Homo sapiens: one gene and its partners. The protein of the gene in region 3 purifies or fractionates together with the protein of the main gene of each other region. This does not show direct contact. Each region holds a gene or a part of one and is shown on either strand. Other genes may lie near its edges. The genes, in order: CAMK2B, APAF1, GOLGA6L2, PAWR and PRKAR2B.

Region 1 (3,974 bases), on a different chromosome or scaffold from region 3:
TCTCCTTTTTCAAGATTGTTTTAGCTATTTTGGGTCTCTTGCATTCCTATGTGAATTTTAGGGCCAGGTTGTCAATTTTTGCAAAAAACGCAGCTGGAATTTTCATAGCAAAAATGTAGGTCAATTTGGAGTATACTACTATTTAACAATATTAAATATTCCAATCCATGAACATGGGATGTCTTTCCATTAATTTAGGTCTTCTTTAATTTCTCTCAACAGTGGTTTGTGGTTTTCAATGTACAAGTCTTGTACTTCTTTTATTAAATTTAGTATTAAGTGTTTTATTTTTTAGATGCTATTGTAAATTGTTTTTCCTAATTTTGTTATTTTGAACTTCTAGTCCATTGAAATACAATGGATTTTTGTATATTGGTCTTACATCTTGCAACTTTGCTAAATTCATTTTTTAGTTCTAATAGTTTTTTAAATGGATTCCTTAGGATTTTCTATATACGAAAGCATGTAATCTGAAAAGAGAGGTAGCTATAACTATTTATTTCCAATCTGGGAGCCTTCTATCTCTTTTTCTTGCCTAATTGCCCTGGCTAGAATCTCCTATACCGTGCTGCCTAGAAATGGAAAGAGCAGATACATTCAGTTTTCCACCATTAAATATGAGGTTAGCTGCAGATTTTTCACAAATGTATTTTATCAAGTTAAGGAAGTTCCTTTCTACTTGTCATTTGTTGAGTTTTTATCATGAAATGGTATTGGTTTTTTTTTAAATGCTTTTTCTGCATCTATTGAAATGGTTCATATAGTTTCAATGTTTGTTCTATCAACGTGGTGTATTATATAGATTGATTTTTGTATGCTGAATGAACCTTTCATTCTTGGGATACATCCTACTTGTTCATAATGTATAAATAATCCTTTTTATATGTTGCTAGATTTATTTTGCTAGTGTTTTGTTGAGGATGCTTCATCTGCATTCATAAGTGATAACAGTCTGTAGTTTTGTGATATCTTTGGTTTTGGTATTAGGGTATTGCTGGCTTCACAGAATGAATTGGAAAGAATTTCCTCCTCTTCTACTTTTTGGGGGAGCTTGTAAAAGACTGGTATTAATTCTTCTTTAAATGTTTGGTAGGATTTACCAGTGAAATTATCTGAGCCTAAGCTTTCCTTTGTGGGAAAATTTTAAATTACTAAGTCAGTCTCTACTTGTTATAGGTCTATTCAGATTTTCTATTTCTTCTTGAGCCAGATTCAGTAGTTTGTGTCTTTCTAAGTATTTGTCCATTTCATCCAGGTTATCTAACTTGAGGGCACATAATTATTCATAGTTATTTCCTTATAATTTTTTTTCTGTAAGGTTGGCAGTAAGGTCCCCTGTGTCATTCCTGATTTTAGCAATTGGAGTCTTCTTTTTTCTTGGCTTTACCATCCTTTTTATAATAATAACCTTCCTCCTAACTAGCACTCCTGAGTCTTCTTAATTATTCTCAGAGGTATTAATCACCTTCTACCCTATCATATAATTTTTTTAGTATTTATGTTTATTGCCTGCCTCTATCCAGCAGTATATAAGCTCCCTAAGGGCAGGCATCCTTGACTGCTTTGTTCACTACTGTTTCCCAAGCACCTATGGCACATGGTAAGTACAGGCAACCAGACTTGCTGAATAAATGAATAAGTCTTCAGGAGAGCAAAAGAAATCTGGAACAGACTAAGACAGCTATGACTGTAACTATTATCCTTAAAAGAAACCAGGAAAAATGAAAAAAAAAAAAAAAAGCATGGTGATTTTGAAGCTCTGGCCCTGTGTTGTCCAATACTGTGGTCACTGTCACCATGTAGTCATAAGAACCTGGTCCAAACTGAGATGTGCCGTAAGGGTAAAATACACACCAGATTTCAAGACGTAGTACAAAAAGGAATGCAAAATAGCTTAATAATTTCTGTTTTGATTACATGTTGAAATGATTTTTTAATTTTTGTACAGATGGGGTTTTGCCATGTTGCCCACGGTCTCTAACTCCTGGGCTCAAGTGATCCACCCACCTTGGCCTCCCAAAGTGCTGGGATTACAGGCACGAGCCACCGCACCAGGCCTCTGAATGATATTTTGGATATAAAGTTAAATAAATATATTTTTAAAGTTCCTTTCACCTGTTTCTTTTTTTTCTTTACGTACTAGAAAATTTTTAATCACACATATGGCTCAACTTTGTATCACATTTTATCTCTTCTGGACAATGCAGCTCTCGACAACTTGGATGGGGTGGGCGGTGGGGTAGTAATGTCATTGTGAATGTAGAGAAAATGAAGGTAAACTTCAAATTCATGCCTAGGTGGGCTCTGAAAGAACCAAGGGTTATATGAAGGAGTGTGGGCTTAGGCGAGTGTCTGGCCTCAGGTGCAGACTCCTCTGCAGAGTCTAGGTATGCAGTGCCCATTGGAATCACCTGGGAGCTTTTAAAAACTGCTGATACCCCATTTCCCTAGTGTCTGGCTAAATGCGATGGGGCCTGAACACTCCTCAGGGGCTTCCCATGTGTGGTTGGGGTTGAGAACCACCACATGGTCATCTTCTTTGGGAGGGCCTGCTCCTAACCAGACTCCTACCCTTTGCCCAGAAAGCCCCTAACTAATGGCCTGGATCAAACTCACAGACGCTGAGAATCAGGCAGCACCTCAACAAACAAGAAGTCATGTGAACAACCTCATTAAGAAATTAGCTGAAAGCTGCAAGCCTCTTGGAGTCAAGCTCCATGACAGACATATAAGTGCTGACAGCCCTGCTACTGCATTTCACCGGGTGACAAGACTGTCTACCCAGACTGGACATCAGAATACCCGCAAGACCTACCTGCAGAGCCACCCAATACCTCTTATAAGGCCCTCATCTTTTACAGGGTGGGTGTGCCACTGCTCTGGGAAGCAGTCCCAGGTGCAAGGCCTGAGTGACCCAGACCATTGCTGAGTCACTGTGGAGCACCTACTGTGTGCCAGGCACTGTTCTCAGCACTTGAATTCAGGGTGTGTTGGGTGACAGAATCAAGGCTCCTCAGCTCCTTGCTGGAAACGGCACTCACTGGGATGTGCTTGACACCCAGAGGGCATTACAGCAAAAGGCATAACACCTGCAGTACTTCATTGTAAGGGCGACAGCAGCTCCTGCCCTCCAGGCTTCTCTTGCTGCTCACAAAGTGAGGAAACAAGGACTGTGGGTCCCAAATTCCACCCTGTACAAGTGTGCCATTATGCTTCCTCCCATAAAATCTTCTTAAATCTTTGCCTGGTTGTTGCCAATCTGTTCTAGAATTCAACAAAAGCTTCTGTCTGGCTTAACAAAGAATCATAACTTAAGTTATTTTTGGATAATTATGTCAATACAAAAAGAACTATGTCCACCAGGAACTGAGCCCTCAACAAGTGACCCTCTAACCCAGGAGACAAAAGCCACCCAAAAGTTTGGCAGCTAGCAACACCACCTTTCTCTAACATAAAAGGATGTTTTCATTTTAAATAAATTCAAGTTTTTCTATGAATAAAATATACATATCTGTGTAATATGCCAATATGATAATTTTTTAAAAACCAAGTTGATACATAATGCATTTTTATGTTTCTACACTAACAAAGTGACTTGCAGCTGTAAAAGATGCTTTAAAAATAATCAAATCAGATTCAATTTTTGTGGGGGAAGAGAGAGAGAATTAAATTTTTTGAAAATATATTTAAAATCTCCAGAAAGGCCACATCTCTTGCCTGGATGAGGGAGGTGGCATCACGGAACACAGGGAAATGGGAGTGGTCTTCCCAGGGACAGACATTGCACACTTATCTCCACCTGGTCTCTTCTAGTAAATTACTGTTAAATTCTAGGGTGGCTCAATATAGACTCTTTAAAGGCCAATGGAGCAAAAATGAGGGAAACATCCCTGTTAGAATTTTTAAGTAGAAGATACAAAACCTAAACATTGCATATCTCTCCCCTCTGCTCTTCGGGATTCCTAGAAAAGGGG
Region 2 (3,974 bases), on a different chromosome or scaffold from region 3:
AAGACTGAGTTGGAAAATCCCATTACTTGGATAGTAATGGTCGCTTTTTTTTTTTTTTTTTTGGCACTCAGTAAGTGATGGCTGAACCTTTTATGGTAGGATCTGTAATTTTAATATGTTCTGATTTAGGGTTTGAGGAGAAGGCAGTCTCTAATTTTTTTTTTCCTTATTTGAATCAGCATATTGAGAAGAGTATAGCAAAGAGGAAGAATCATTTTCCTAGATCTAGCCATCTATTTGTTTTAAAAAAAATTTAATTTGGTAGATTTTAAAAGACACTGGTGGGATTATCTTTTTAAAAGGAAGCTTAAGATAAGTGTCATTAGTGATTAATATTTTTTTTTTAAATTAGGTCTCTCTTGATCTTGGATGATGTTTGGGACTCTTGGGTGTTGAAAGCTTTTGACAGTCAGTGTCAGATTCTTCTTACAACCAGAGACAAGAGTGTTACAGATTCAGTAATGGGTAAGGATTATTCGTTTACTTTTTAGTACCTTTATATTTAATTTAATTACATTTAAATATGTGACATACCAAATTACTTACTTTGTCTTGTGATTTTTGTTTGCAGGTCCTAAATATGTAGTCCCTGTGGAGAGTTCCTTAGGAAAGGAAAAAGGACTTGAAATTTTATCCCTTTTTGTTAATATGAAGAAGGCAGATTTGCCAGAACAAGCTCATAGTATTATAAAAGAATGTAAAGGTATGGTTATTTATTTGTTTATGAGGAGATTATAGGGAGTTATATAATTTCCCTTTTGTTAATTGAGCTAATGAATATGGTAATTTAGCACATGAACATCCAAAAACTTTTCTGGGAGATTTAGTATTTTAGGTTCTCTGATATCTTAAATGGATACATGATATTATGGTATTTATTTATTCATTAAAATAATATTTACCATCTACCCACAGTGTGTTAGAGACCACATTAGTGAGAGAAGTGAGACACAGATGTGACCTCTGCTGTTAGAGTTAAAAATAGAGTGAGAATCAGATTTTAAAACTTGTTTTTGCTTGGGATTTTATAAAAATAGTGTTCTAATTTGGTAAGTAAAAACTGGTGTCTTAATTTGCATTTTTTTTTAGCGAAGTTAAACTTTTTACTTGTTTATTGAATACGTTTTAAGAAGTTATCCTTGACTTTAAGAAATTATCCTTGACTCACTTTTCTTTTTTGATATAAGTATTTTTAATTTATTTCTAAATACTCAAAAAATAGAAACTATTAGCTCTTTGTCATATTTTTACAAGTATTATTTCCCAGTAAAACAATTTTTTAACTTAAAATTTATATATAGAATCTCGCTGTGTTGCCCAGGCTGGTCTTGAACTACTTGCCTCAAATGATCCTCCTGCCTTAGCCTCCTAAAGCACTGGGACTACAGGCATGAGTCACCATGTCCAGCCTGTTACCCAGTTTTTTGTGTACCTTTTATTTGTTGTATTCTTTTGACATATAGAAGCTTAAAATTTTAAACAGTCAAATCTATCAACTCTTAAAATTATTTCTTTCATTATTGTTATGCTTGGAAATACCTTATTTTTCTTCTTTTTCTTTTTTTTTCTCTTTTGAGACAAGTCTCACTCTGTCGTCCAGGCTGGAGTGCAGTGGCGTGATCTCGGCTCACTGCAACTTCTGCCTCCCAGGTTCAAGCAGTTCTTCTGCCTCAGCCTCTCGAGTATCTGGGACTACAGGCATGTTCCACCATGCCTAGCTAATTTTTGTATTTTCAGTAGAGACGGGGTTTCGCCATGTTGGTCAGGCTGGTCTCGAACTCCTGACCTCAGGTGATTGCCCGCCTCAGCCTCCCAAAGTGCTGGGATTATAGGCATGAGCTACCATACCTGGCCACCTTATTTTTCATTCTGCCATCAAATAGACACACAGTTTTGTTTGTTTATTTATTTATTTATTTATTTTATTTATTTTTTGAGACGAGTCTCACTCTGTCGCCCAGGCTGGAGTGCAGTGGTGCGACCTCTGCTCACTGCAACCTCTGCTGCCCAGGTTCAAGTGATCCTCCTGCCTCAGCCCCCTAGTAGCTGGGATTACAGGTGCGTGCTACCTCACCCAGCTAATTTTTGTAGTTTTAGTAGAGATGGGGTTTCATCATCTTGGCCAGGGTAGTCTTGAACTCCTGACCTCGTGATCCACCTGCCTCAGCCACCCAAAGTGCTGGGATTACAGGCGTGAGCCACCACACGTGGCCAGTTTTGTTAATTTTTAAAGAAATCTTACACTTAGAAAAAATGCTTAATTTGTAGTTATTACAAAGGGTGATGCATGTCCATTTTGAAAATGTGTGAAACTAAAAAAAAAATAGAAATTATCCATAACCTGATAATTATTAGCATCATGAGAGTATTGCCTCCAGTCTTTTAGAACAAAGATTTAAAAAGTTGAGATTATGTATATGTGGTTTTGGATTTTGCCCTTTTTTTTTTAAAGAGCCAGGGTCTTGCTCTGTCACCCAGGCTGGAGTGCAGTAAGATCACAGCTCACTGCAGGCTTGAATGTCTTGGCTTAAGCAATCCTCCTGCCCCAGCCTCCTGAATAGCTGGGACTGCAGATACCCACCACCACACCTGGGTAATTTTTAAATTTTTTTGTAGGGACAGGGTCTCACTATGTTGCCCAGGCAGGTCTCAAACTTCTGCCCTCAAGCAATCCTCCCACCTCAGCCTCCTGAAGTGCTAGGACTACAGACACATGTCGCCACACCCAGCTGGATCTTACCCTTTTTCTATATCTTGAGCATTTTCCCATGTTGTTAAATATTTTTTTGAAAAAAATTTACCAGTGGCATAATATTGATATATCTTAATTTATTCAACCACTTCTGTATTATTGGACATTGTTTACGTTGTTTAAGATTTTTTCACTATTCTAAGTGTGCTGTGATGAATATCCTTAAACTTAATCATTCTTTTCTTTTTCTTTAAGACAGAGTCTCACACTGTTCCTCAGGCTAGGATGCAGTGGTGCTGTCATGGCTCACCGTAGCCTCAACCTCCTGGGCTGAAGCAATCCTCCCACCTCAGCCTCCTAAGTAGCCGGCACTATAGGCACACACCACCACACCTGGCTGATTTTTCTAATTTTTATTTTTAGTAGAGACAAGGTCTCATTATATTGCTTAGACTGGCGCATATATATATATATATATATATATTTTTTTTTTTTTTTGTAATGACATCTTAGCCAGATTTGATCTATGTTATTTTGACTTAATAAAGATAATCAGGAACTTACTGAATGAAATCTTTCTTATTTCTAATTTTTTTTGGGATAAATATCTAGAAGTGAAGTCAAGAGTGATAAATACTTAAGGCTTTTGATAACATGCAGCAGAAATTGTTTCTTAGTAATGTAAGTAAGTAAGTCGATTCTTATTAGTGACAAAATAGGATGGTATTAGCATAGTGACTTCATTTTTTTTTTAAAGGCTCTCCCCTTGTAGTATCTTTAATTGGTGCACTTTTACGTGATTTTCCCAATCGCTGGGAGTACTACCTCAAACAGCTTCAGAATAAGCAGTTTAAGAGAATAAGGAAATCTTCGTCTTATGATTATGAGGCTCTAGATGAAGCCATGTCTATAAGTGTTGAAATGCTCAGAGAAGACATCAAAGATTATTACACAGATCTTTCCATCCTTCAGAAGGACGTTAAGGTGCCTACAAAGGTAATGGGATCAATGATCCTCATCATTGGGTATTTATTGCATGTAAGCTTTGATATAGTACTGAGCATGTTGTTACAGAGAACCTTGGAAGGATAAGACCCAGGGGACTGAGGTGGTGGGGTGTTGGGTGTAGAAATCCCTCTGCTGTTAGCTTCCATTAAGGGCTTTGTGTTGAACTCAGGAGTTAACCTATTTCTGTGGTTCTAGTGCAGCTGAAGAAGCATCTGACTTCTCTTTCTCTTTTCTATCTTGAGGAGTAGCTGAGTTTCTTCTTAAGAAATGGAGA
Region 3 (3,327 bases):
CTGCTGCCACTCCTTCTCTTCCTGCTCCCACATATTCTCCTCCTGCTTCTGCATCTTCTCCTCCTGCTCCCGCATCGTCTCCTCCTCTTCCCGCATCTTCTTCTCCCGCTCCCGTATCCTCTCCTCCTCTTGCATCTTCTCCTCCTGGTCCCGCGTCTTCTTCTCCTGCTCCTGCATCTTCTTCTCCTCCCGCATCTTCTCCACCTGCTCCCACATCTTCTCCTGCTCCCGCATCCTCTCCTCCTTCTCCCGTAGCCTCTCGTCCTGCTCCCACATCCTCTCCTCTTGGTCCCGCATCTTCTGCTCCTGCTCCCGCATCTGCTTCTCCTGCTCCCACAGCCTCTCCTCCTGTCTCCACATCTTCTCTTCCTGCTCCCGCATCTTCTCCTCCTGCTCCCACATCTTCTCCTCCTGCTCCTGCATCTGCTCCTCCTGCTCCCGCAGCTTCTTCTGCTCCCGCAGCTCCTTCTCCTGCTCCCGCAGCTCCTTCTCCTGCTCTCGCAGCCTCTTCTCCTGTCTCCGCATCTTCTCCTCCTGCTCCCGCATCTTCCCCTCCTGCTCCCGCAGTCTCTCCTCCTGTCTCCACATCTTCTCCTCCTGCTTCCGTATCTTCTTTTCCTGCTCCCGTAGCTCCTCCTCCTGCCTCCACATCTCCTCCTGCAAAGTGTTGGTTTGAACCTCAAAAGGAAATAGACTTATGAACTAGCTATATAAATGTAATCTATAAAATAACAGTTTTCATCTATGATTCTTTAAAAAAAATTTTTAAGCCTTAACACTGAGGTTCTGATTTCCCAGGCAGGGCCCCAAATTTGTAGATTTTTAGCACACTCTAGAGGATTCTATGGTGGGACCAGAACAAGGACCCAAATTTTCCAGCTCTTGGCTGGACCCTCCCCATACCTTGCATGATCCCTAGACCATGGTCCTAGCTGGATGGGTCTCCCACAACCCCTGGGGCTGCAGCCGCTCACCTGTGGCAGCAGGAACTTGGCCCTCTCCAGTTTCCTTTTTAGCTCCTTCACGTTGAGCTGGATCTCAGACTTTTCAGATTCTGCAAGTCGAAGTTTTTCTTGTAGTTCGGCATTTTTCTTCTTCAGCTCCTCATTGGTTATGCTATGGCCCGAGGCAGTAGAGAAAGGAATGAACGAAGAACAGAAAGGACTGCTTTGGTGATCAACCCTCTACTCTCGCCCCACAAGCACAGAACCGTGGCACTGGAAGGGACCCCAGGAATTAAAAGTCCCAGGTGGCAGGCCAGAGAGAAGACATGAGTTGCCTGAGGCTACCCCATGAGTCAGTGGCACAGCCGGCACTAGAGCTTCCCTGTGCACACATGTAAACCTGTATGACCCCCTACCATGCTCACCTGTACCCCCCACCTCCCAGCACACCACCCACGCTAAGGGCCCCCAGACCTCCCATCCCACCTTCCCCCATCCTACGTGTTCCTGTACAGTTCCAGACTCAGGGCGTCCCTCTCCTTTGTTAACTCCTCGATGTACTGCAAATAGAGAAAGGTTAAGTCAGGACAGAGCAGGCAGAAGAGCAGCTGGCCGACCAGGAACAACAGCTACACTGATACTCCACAGTAACACTCCCTCACTCTCCATCACACCCGACATGTTCTCAAGGCAATTCCAAGCCCATGGTCTCATTTTTTTTTCTTTTTTTTTTTCTCCTTTTCTTCTTTTAGAGATGGAGTTTTGCTCTTGTTGCCCAGGCTGGAGTGCAATGGCGCAATCTCGCCCCATGACAACCTCTGCCTCCCGGGTTCAAGCAATTCTGCCTCAGCCTCCTAAGTAGCTGGGATTACAGGCATGCGCTACCACACCTGGCTCTCACTTGTTTTTCAGAGAACTCAGTAAGGGTAGAAGGGACAGGGAAAGAGACTGAATTGATAGCTGGCTAACAGGGGCCCAGAGAGATCAGATAATATTGCTATTGCTATTACTGTTATTACTGCCACTGTTGGAACCTTTCTTGAGTGCTTCACCAGGCACTATGCTAACAATCCCATTTAATCCTCACAACCTCCATAGGAGACGGTTACCATTATTACCTCTATTGTATAGATGCAAAACATGGGGTATTAAAAGTTAAATGGTTGCCTAAGATCACTTTGACAGAGCTGGGATTTCAACACCCAGGTGTATCTGATTCTCTAAGCCCATTCTTTCCCTGGGGGTAGGGGCACAGATAAGAAGGAGGAAATTAATCCTTTGTTGACTTTTTGAAAGAACGATACATTGGCATAGTCCAAAACTCAGAAGGTAGAGAAGGGAAATATCTACCCCACACACACTGTTCCTGTCTCCTGAGTTTTTTATGAATCCTTACAAATATGTTTTTATGTATGTTACCATAATACGTACACACACACACACACACACACACGCACATGCACACTTATGTGTGTTCCCTCTCTCTACACAAATGGTAACATACTAAAGATACTCTTCTGTACCTTCATGGTACAAATACCTTAACCCCTGCCTAGGACTTGGTCAAGGCCACAGCCAAGTATGGGCAGGGCAGGCTCTTGGCCTTGGAGCTCTGTGTCCAGTGCTCGCTCCCCACAGTGCCCCCCAACTCACCCACAGCAGCTGACTCAGCCCCAACCTGCCTCTAATAACCACACACAAAAGCAGCAAGAAATGACCCATACTATCTTCTGGGCAGGACACTGCATCCTGCAGGAGGGACCTTTAGGCTCATTCCTCCATCTGCGAAGCTGGGATCCCAGGAGACTGGGGAGGTGATTGGACTTACCCTGTCTGCCTTCTTGTGCCATGTGGACACAGCAGAGAGAGCCCGCTGTAACTCTCCTGCAAAGTGCCAGGAATGATGCAAGCGGCCGGCGAGATCCTTGGACTCTCCTGGAATGAGAGAGGTTGAGACACAGCCCAAAGGACTCCCCCTAAAGGCCTGTGAAAGTGCCAGGTTGAAGGATGATGGGGTGCCCAGGTTCCCATCTTCAAATTTCCTGGCAGCATCCTGGCTGTAATAGAGCGCTGTCTCCAGTTCAGTTTTCTGACACGTGAGAATTCGTATTGTATGATCCTGGGCCTTTGGGAGAAAAGACAAGCAAGTGCTGAAAGAGAAGCAAAAAAACCTTCTCCAGAGGACAGGAGGGAACTTCACACCCTCCACTCACCTCTATCTCCCGCCTTAGGGCTTCCTGATGTTGGTGGCTTGCCTTCTTTTCCTATAGAAAGAGGAAGACAGAGCTCTTACTAGGGGGAGGCAGAGATCCACAGCAAGAGACATGCCCCCAGAATGGCACCAATGCCCCAGGACAGGCGCACCCATGGGACCAGGTTATCA
Region 4 (3,267 bases), on a different chromosome or scaffold from region 3:
TCTATCTGGTTAGACATCAGAATAAAATGAATGGACTGTAAAGGATCTTATAACCAGTCTCTCTCTTTAATATGAAGGCCCAACATTACATAATTCTTTTTAAGAGTTGACCAGGAATGAAATGTAACCTCTTTTAAAGATGAAGAAAAACTGAAAAAATGAGATTAAGAAAATATGTGGGTAGTTTACAGCTGCTGATAGAATTGTGTGCACGCGTGCATGCATGCATAAACACAAAGTGAATCTAGAAGGGAAAAAATTGAGTTTGATGAAGTCTAAGATGAAAGGTTCCATTTCATGTAAGATTATGTGACCTTGGAAAAATTTACTGGCTTGCTAGTGGAATACGTCCTTATATAGGGACTTGAAGAGTTTATCTAAATAGACTGACTTAAGGATGCTTTTCCTCTTGTTAGACTTGTATGACATTACTGAGAAGATTTAGAGTTCTAGAAGTAGAGAAGACTGATTAGCTTGTGCCTGTGTATGAAGAATGACAAATTAAGACAAAAGGTTATGTAAACCATTTACTAAAAAAGTCTAAATTTTTATATTCCTAGGCCCCTACTTATCTTTTACAAACTTTGAAGGACCTGAAATTCTTTGGACACCATCAGATTTAGTTTATAAGAGTTCTGATTTTGAATCAAGAAATTATTCATGTAGTTTTAAAACACAATTAAAATTTTCAGTCAGGCTGAACTTTTGTGCACTTCCTCATTTATTCGAGAAACCCCACCACTAATGTATTTAGACCTTAATATGATGGCTTTGAGTCTTAAATCATTGTCCACCTAAAATAATATACCAAATAAAGATTTTTAAAGTGCTGCATATGGTTTCTGTAAGAGGTACATAATTAGATTACCAGCATTATCCTTTAGCTTCAAAAGTAAAACTCATAGTCAGGATTTTACTGATAGTACAGGAAGAAAAAAAATAACCACTGTTGAAAAATAAATGAAAAAAATTTTATTGAGTATTACTTTATACATGCAAATTGAAAGTGAATCTATATTAAGTTGACTATTCCACAATAAAAACCTATGAAATGGGAATGATCAAAGCTGTCTAACACAATACTAATGTGTTCAATAAATTATCCAGATGTTTTTCCACAAATATTTGGATTACCTGAATTAGCTGATTCTTCAGCAAAAGTTAAATTTTAGCTTTAATATGGTAGCAGCAGGATGCTACTTAAATTTAGAAGAAAAACATAAGAATAAAAACCCTGAATAGCATAGCCAAATCTTCCAAGAAATAAGTTCACCAAAAAAGTAGCATACACCTATTTGGTATCCAGAGGAGGAAACAAAACACAGGCACTTAATCAACATCCACCAAGTGATCATCACTAACATTCTATTATTACCAGAGTAACTGTCGATATGTGAACTGTAGATTAGAACAGACTTACATATCTAAAAACAAACCAGTAATCAATAATATATACAGAAATACTAACTTGAAGTCACATTTAAATACCATCAACAGTTTGGTGTATCTGATATAACTGAATTCATTTCATCACTGCTATAAATTCCTTAAAAGTGTTCTTTTCCTAATTAACATTATCTTTAAAAAATGGTAGATATTTCCCAGTATGCATCAGTTTTTTCACTCCACCATTCAGTAAATGTTGTAGCAAATTAAATAGAACCTATTAACTAGATCTAAAAACAGTGGCTGAATACTTAACACAAAGAAGTACTTTTGAGTAAACTATTCAGATTAGACAGGCTAATGCTAAGACTGCATTTTGTGCTACTGACATGCACTATATAGATCGTACACTACTAGATGGAAAGTTGGTCCATGTCCATTTATTTAAAGATTCTGTAACACCTGTAATAGTATTTAATACAGCTCCCACATACTATATTCCTCTCACATAGACATAGTTATTTTTAGTGGGGATAAGGATATGACTTTAACATGCTATGAGATTCTAGCTAAGTAAAATAAAAACAATATGGACTCAGATTTTCTTAGGAGATATTAGTTCAAGTTTTTAAACTGGGAAACAATCAACTTCCATATATCCAGGAGAAACTTAGCATGGGGGGAGGTGCCTTAGTTGATGTGCCTGATAAGCAAACTGTTAGTTGTCTATTAGTATTATGTTTTCGGCTTAATGTAACAACAAAAGAAAGTTGTCACACTACCTCTCAGATAATATCAATTACAATCTTAGAGACTGTAATTGGGAATACAATCCTATAACAAGTTATTAACAATATCATGAATAGTTATTAAGTAAGTGCCAGCACTACATGCAACTTACTGGTCACCAACTCAGAACCCATAAAACTATACACATATGCACAAAAAAAAAACTCCAAAGAAAGATACCTATCACTGTACATATGAATACTGTCCAGGATATCAGATCAATTATCAAATCCAAGGTCTCTGCTGTTTTGTCTTACAGTGTTGAATATATGAATGCTTCTCTATTACACTGACTTGTACTATTTTCAAGAAATTAAGTGGATTCAAAATCTTACATTTTTATTTCTAATTATAAAATCCAGATTAATCCAAAAAACACAAACCACATGTAACCGAGGTAGGTTTTTCACCTTAAGAATACATTGCTTCTACCACAATTAAAAATTTTTTAAACTGAAGAAAAAAAAAAACTACATTGCTCCACATACCTGATACTTAATTTTCTATGTTTGAAACTACTTGAACAAGTGTGACAGTGCTAATCTACTATATTTAGTAAATCCCTTAGTACCTATAAATACACACCCAAAAGCCCTTCCCTCCTTCTCTAATGGTAACTGTTGTATAATAAAATTGTCAACAACTCTAGAAAGATGAAATAAAGATTACTATAGCAATCTTCAATTAATTCATTTCAGAAATCAAGGAGGCAAGTCATGTTCATTTTAAAGATGACAAACTTACTATTTTGAAAATGAGCTCATAAATACATTAGAACTTTGAATGTGCTTTATTATGCCACAAATTCCCAGGAGATTTAAGAAATAGTATTTCTGAACAGGAATAATAATTTCACAAATACTAACACTTTATTGACAATAGACAAGTCTTTTAGGGTAGTGCACATGTACTTAAAAACTACCTTCTACCAATCTCAACACTTTTTATAAATTTTCAGGTGAAACTGTAGCAGATCCTACTTTATTTTTCAATGGTTAGTGTAAAATTCTGTATGTAAAATAAGTACATATTTTGAGATGGAAGAAGGACTGCATGTGAAATGCTTTGCCTAAGTTGTAAGGCTCCTGTCTT
Region 5 (3,974 bases), on a different chromosome or scaffold from region 3:
CATATAGCCTATGATAACATCCTTTAATTATCTTCTTAAACACAGATACTTTCTATATATTACAATCATTTTAATAAACCTTTCAGTCATAATTTTGTGGAGTACAAAGTCATTTTATCAGTATGTTGATTTTTTTATGAACTACTCTTTAGAAAGTGATGTTAAAGCCTATTGACTATTAAATCACTACTGTTTATTGATACGTTGTAAATGTAAAAAAAGGAAAAAACCTGAAATCACAGAAAATGCTTGGCATCTACACAAACACATTCTCAGTGGACTAACCACTACTGTGTAATTTTGTCACTACAGGTCTTGCTCCATACTTTTGCTTCATGCAGTGGGTTCAACAATATCCATGTTCGTTCCAAACAGGGCAACTAACTGTTCTTCATAGGTAGCGATGTTCCTTTTCATAATTTCCATGCAAGGTCCCAGAAGCCTTTCAAATGCTTGCACATCCATTGCTGAGAAAAGAGAAGATTTTTTTTTAAATAACATTCTTTGCAAATCTGCAGAATTTCTAAGTCATTTACAATACCGACTCCATATATATCAATAGTGCAATGATATTTTAGGTAAATACTATAAAATACAAGAAAAAGCATAATGATAAAAATGTTCCACTTGAAAAAGGAAGCAGCCAGGGCCACGCTCTTGGACCACACTCTGCAGTCCCTCGGCAATATGATGAGCAATGCTAAGTTGGTGGGAGGTTCCTGGTCCAAGCTGAGAAAAGAATGAGGGACTATCATGGAAAGACCTTAGAATTTTAAAAAATAAATGTGCTGTCTCCACCTTAGCAATGTGAACTCCTCAAGGGTGGCACAAGAGTGTTTTCTATCCTGTGTTCCCTTCTCAGGGTTTAAAATGCCATGTTGTGAAGGCCAAGTGTTAACCTTTTGTAAGTTTTGCTGCCATACTATGTCTATGCAATCCAAAAATGGCAGCTGACATAATGCTTTTGTTTACTTCTATAAGTACATGCTAGAAATCACTTTGCTTGCCTGTCTCCTGGATTTTAAAACTGGATTTATAATATATAAATAGAAAATATGATCATACTCTATACATAAAAGTACAAATTAAAATAGATCTTCTTTGCCTTTTACACTAAAGATAAAAAGATAAAAAAGGCAATGTTTACAAGAATAGGGTGAATGGGCATTATGGCACTGCTAGTAGTGTACAAATACAAGTAATCTGGCAATATGTGTCAAAAGTTAATTTTTTAAAAACCCACTCCTGAAAACCATTTCTAAGGAAAACTCCTATAATACAGAAAAGTCTTCTATGCACAAAAAATTGCTCCCCACAAAAAAGTTGGAGCCAAAACCTTCGAAGTATTTACCACTAAGGAATGATTAATTTATCGTGTATATATTTACCTAAAAGAATTTTAAAATTTGGTGTAATAAAATAAGAACATTCCTAAGCGATAATGAACTTTAAAAGTTGTTTGGAAAACTGTTTAACAACTGGAAGCCCACACAAATAAAAAGGACAAGAAGGAATTATAATAGCAGAAATCACTGAGTGGCGGTGTTATGTTTTTTCTACATTTTCTGTATTTCTCAGGTTTTCTTTGATGTGAGTATAATAATCTATTATTGAAAAAAAATTAACAGACTTTCACTCACTCACCTTTACTCTTTCTAATAGACTTTCACTCACTCACCTTTACTGTAATAGACTTTCACTCACTCACCTTTACTATTTCTAATAGACTTTCACTCACTCACCTTTACTCTTTCTAATAGCCCTACTTAGGGAAATTACCTGCCAGTTTCTAATCGTCTTCTCTTCCATCCAAATTTAACACTTGATTAATATTATACTTATTTAAACCCTTTTAAAGAATGACTTCTCTAAGAAGTTAATTCTAAGGATCCTTGCAAATCTTAAAAACATTAAGTTTATGCTATTGAATTATGGATGAAAAGCACAGAGAGGGTAATAACTGTGAGATCAATTTTCTTAAAATACCCTCCATATTGCCACCTTCTAAACTGTATTTTCTTATCAAAGTAAGTGATTTCTCAGATATATAATCTCAGATATATACAGATGCCTGCACCTGAAGATGACATTTCTGCCAAGCTACTCTGGTAAAATAGTAATAACAACTGAACAGCAAAGAACATTTGACTGTGCTTTGACAAACCTGAACCTTTGTGTCCCAATACTGTAATGAGTAAGGATTCTCACAACATCTCAGCATTCCCCGCAGATCTTAATAACGGACTTTATAAAAATAGTACTTTAGCCTTCTCTTTTGAGGAACATAGCACATGTTGCTTATTTGAGAGATTCCATATAAAACGTGGTACTTGGAACTCTTATTTTAATGACTAATATGGGATGTTATTTCATATATACACAAGAAGAGCAAAATGTATCTGGATGTAAAAATTTCGAAGAAAAAATGGCTTCCACAAATTGATTTTATAAGGCAATGAGTCCTAATCTTGTTACCTTTTGTGGGGACCACAAAACCTGTGAACCCAATAAAATGATTCACTCAACATGAATACATAAAATGCAGACATAAGTTCAACCAGCAGAAGCACGCCCACTGTTGCAATCCCTACCTAAACATTTGACAGTCCCAATGGCGTGGGCAGAAGCTGCTCGAGGTTTGTTAGTTACCAGGGCAAGCTCTCCAAAGTACTGTCCCCGCGAGCATCGAGCGATTTCTACTGCACCATTCTCTTCCACTTCTGATTTACCCTGACAAGGCAATTAAAAAGATGAGCTTTTCCTCAGCTTATGAAAAATAAAATTAACCTCAGTCTAAACATCAAAAAGTAGATCTGTTGTGTTCCTTGCTAACAGTATGTGGGTTCTGAGGACTTAGAATGCTTACCTTTCTTTTCATAGTAATTTTCACTTCTCCAGATTCTACAATGAAAAAAGAATCAGCCGAATCTCCCTATTGGAATCAATAACAAAAACAGACGGTGAAAATGCAAATTAATTGACAACAATCTTGTTACCTTTCATATCCCTAAAATTGATCCAACCCCAAAGTACACATATTCACCTGAAAAGTGAAATCCTAAGGGAACAAGCTGTCTCGGTTTCTAAATCAAGAGGTTTTTTTTTTTTTTGAGACGGAGTCTCACTCTGTTGCCCAGACTGGAATGCAGTGGCGCGATCTCGGCTCACTACAAGCTCCACCTCCCGGGTTCACACCATTCTCCTGCCTCAGCCTCCTGGGTGGCTGGGACTACAGGCGTCTGCCACCACGCCCGGCTAATTTATTTGTATTTTTAGTAGAGACGGGGTTTCAACGTGTTAGCCAGGATGGTCTTGATCTCCTGACCTCGAGATCTGCCTGCGTCGGCCTCCCAAAGTGCTGGGATTACAGGCGTGAGCCACCGAGCCCGGCCCTAAATGAAGAGGTTTTGATGGACAATTATGTAGTAATGATTTCATTTGTAAAATTATTTGAAATAATACTTTCTTTTTCCCCCCCAAGATGGAGTCTCGCTCTGTCACCCAGGCTGGAGTGCAGTGGTGCAATCTCAGCTCACTGCAGCCTCCACCTCCTGGATTCAGGCGACTCTCCCACCTCACCCTCCCAAGTAGCTGGGATTACAGGCATGTGCTACCACACCCAGCTAATTTTTTTTTCCTTTTTTTAAAATTTTACTTTAAATCAGGGATACATGTGGAGAACATGCAGGTTTGTTACACAGGTATACATGTGCCATGGAGGTTTGCTATACCTATCAACCTGTCTGGTTTTAAGCCCCGCATGCATTAGGTATCTGTCCTAATACTCTCCCTACCTTCACTCCCCACCCCCTGACAGGCCCCGGTGTGTGATGTTCCCCTCCCTGTGTCCATGTGTTCTTATTGTTCAACTCCCACTTATGAGTGAGAACATTCGGTGTTTAGTTTTCTACTCCTGTGTTAGTCTGCTGAGAATGATGGCTTCCAGCTTCATCCATGTCCTGCAAAGGACATTA

What was found.
Region 1: the proteins of GOLGA6L2 (region 3) and CAMK2B purify together in Homo sapiens (affinity purification with mass spectrometry; one large-scale study listed by BioGRID and IntAct). This does not show direct contact.
Region 2: the proteins of GOLGA6L2 (region 3) and APAF1 purify together in Homo sapiens (affinity purification with mass spectrometry; one large-scale study listed by BioGRID and IntAct). This does not show direct contact.
Region 4: the proteins of GOLGA6L2 (region 3) and PAWR purify together in Homo sapiens (affinity purification with mass spectrometry; one large-scale study listed by BioGRID and IntAct). This does not show direct contact.
Region 5: the proteins of GOLGA6L2 (region 3) and PRKAR2B purify together in Homo sapiens (affinity purification with mass spectrometry; one large-scale study listed by BioGRID and IntAct). This does not show direct contact.

The regions. Positions count from the first base shown.
Region 1 is NC_000007.14:44,315,525-44,319,498, forward strand, and holds part of CAMK2B (calcium/calmodulin-dependent protein kinase type II subunit beta), read right to left. Parts: intron 1-3,974. UniProt on the Homo sapiens protein: Calcium/calmodulin-dependent protein kinase that functions autonomously after Ca(2+)/calmodulin-binding and autophosphorylation, and is involved in dendritic spine and synapse formation, neuronal plasticity and regulation of sarcoplasmic reticulum Ca(2+) transport in skeletal muscle.
Region 2 is NC_000012.12:98,662,104-98,666,077, forward strand, and holds part of APAF1 (apoptotic protease-activating factor 1), read left to right. Parts: intron 1-352; coding exon 353-465; intron 466-571; coding exon 572-703; intron 704-2,947; coding exon of another isoform or gene 2,948-2,976; exon of another isoform or gene 2,977-3,255; intron 3,256-3,449; coding exon 3,450-3,688; intron 3,689-3,974. UniProt on the Homo sapiens protein: Oligomeric Apaf-1 mediates the cytochrome c-dependent autocatalytic activation of pro-caspase-9 (Apaf-3), leading to the activation of caspase-3 and apoptosis. This activation requires ATP. Isoform 6 is less effective in inducing apoptosis.
Region 3 is NC_000015.10:23,441,005-23,444,331, forward strand, and holds part of GOLGA6L2 (golgin subfamily A member 6-like protein 2), read right to left. Parts: intron 3,209-3,327; coding exon 3,158-3,208; intron 3,070-3,157; coding exon 2,773-3,069; intron 1,505-2,772; coding exon 1,446-1,504; intron 1,117-1,445; coding exon 975-1,116; intron 679-974; coding exon 1-678.
Region 4 is NC_000012.12:79,586,842-79,590,108, forward strand, and holds part of PAWR (PRKC apoptosis WT1 regulator protein), read right to left. Parts: 3' UTR 1-3,267. UniProt on the Homo sapiens protein: Pro-apoptotic protein capable of selectively inducing apoptosis in cancer cells, sensitizing the cells to diverse apoptotic stimuli and causing regression of tumors in animal models.
Region 5 is NC_000007.14:107,155,942-107,159,915, reverse strand, and holds part of PRKAR2B (cAMP-dependent protein kinase type II-beta regulatory subunit), read right to left. Parts: intron 2,933-3,974; coding exon 2,867-2,932; intron 2,731-2,866; coding exon 2,592-2,730; intron 468-2,591; coding exon 334-467; 3' UTR 1-333. UniProt on the Homo sapiens protein: Regulatory subunit of the cAMP-dependent protein kinases involved in cAMP signaling in cells. Type II regulatory chains mediate membrane association by binding to anchoring proteins, including the MAP2 kinase.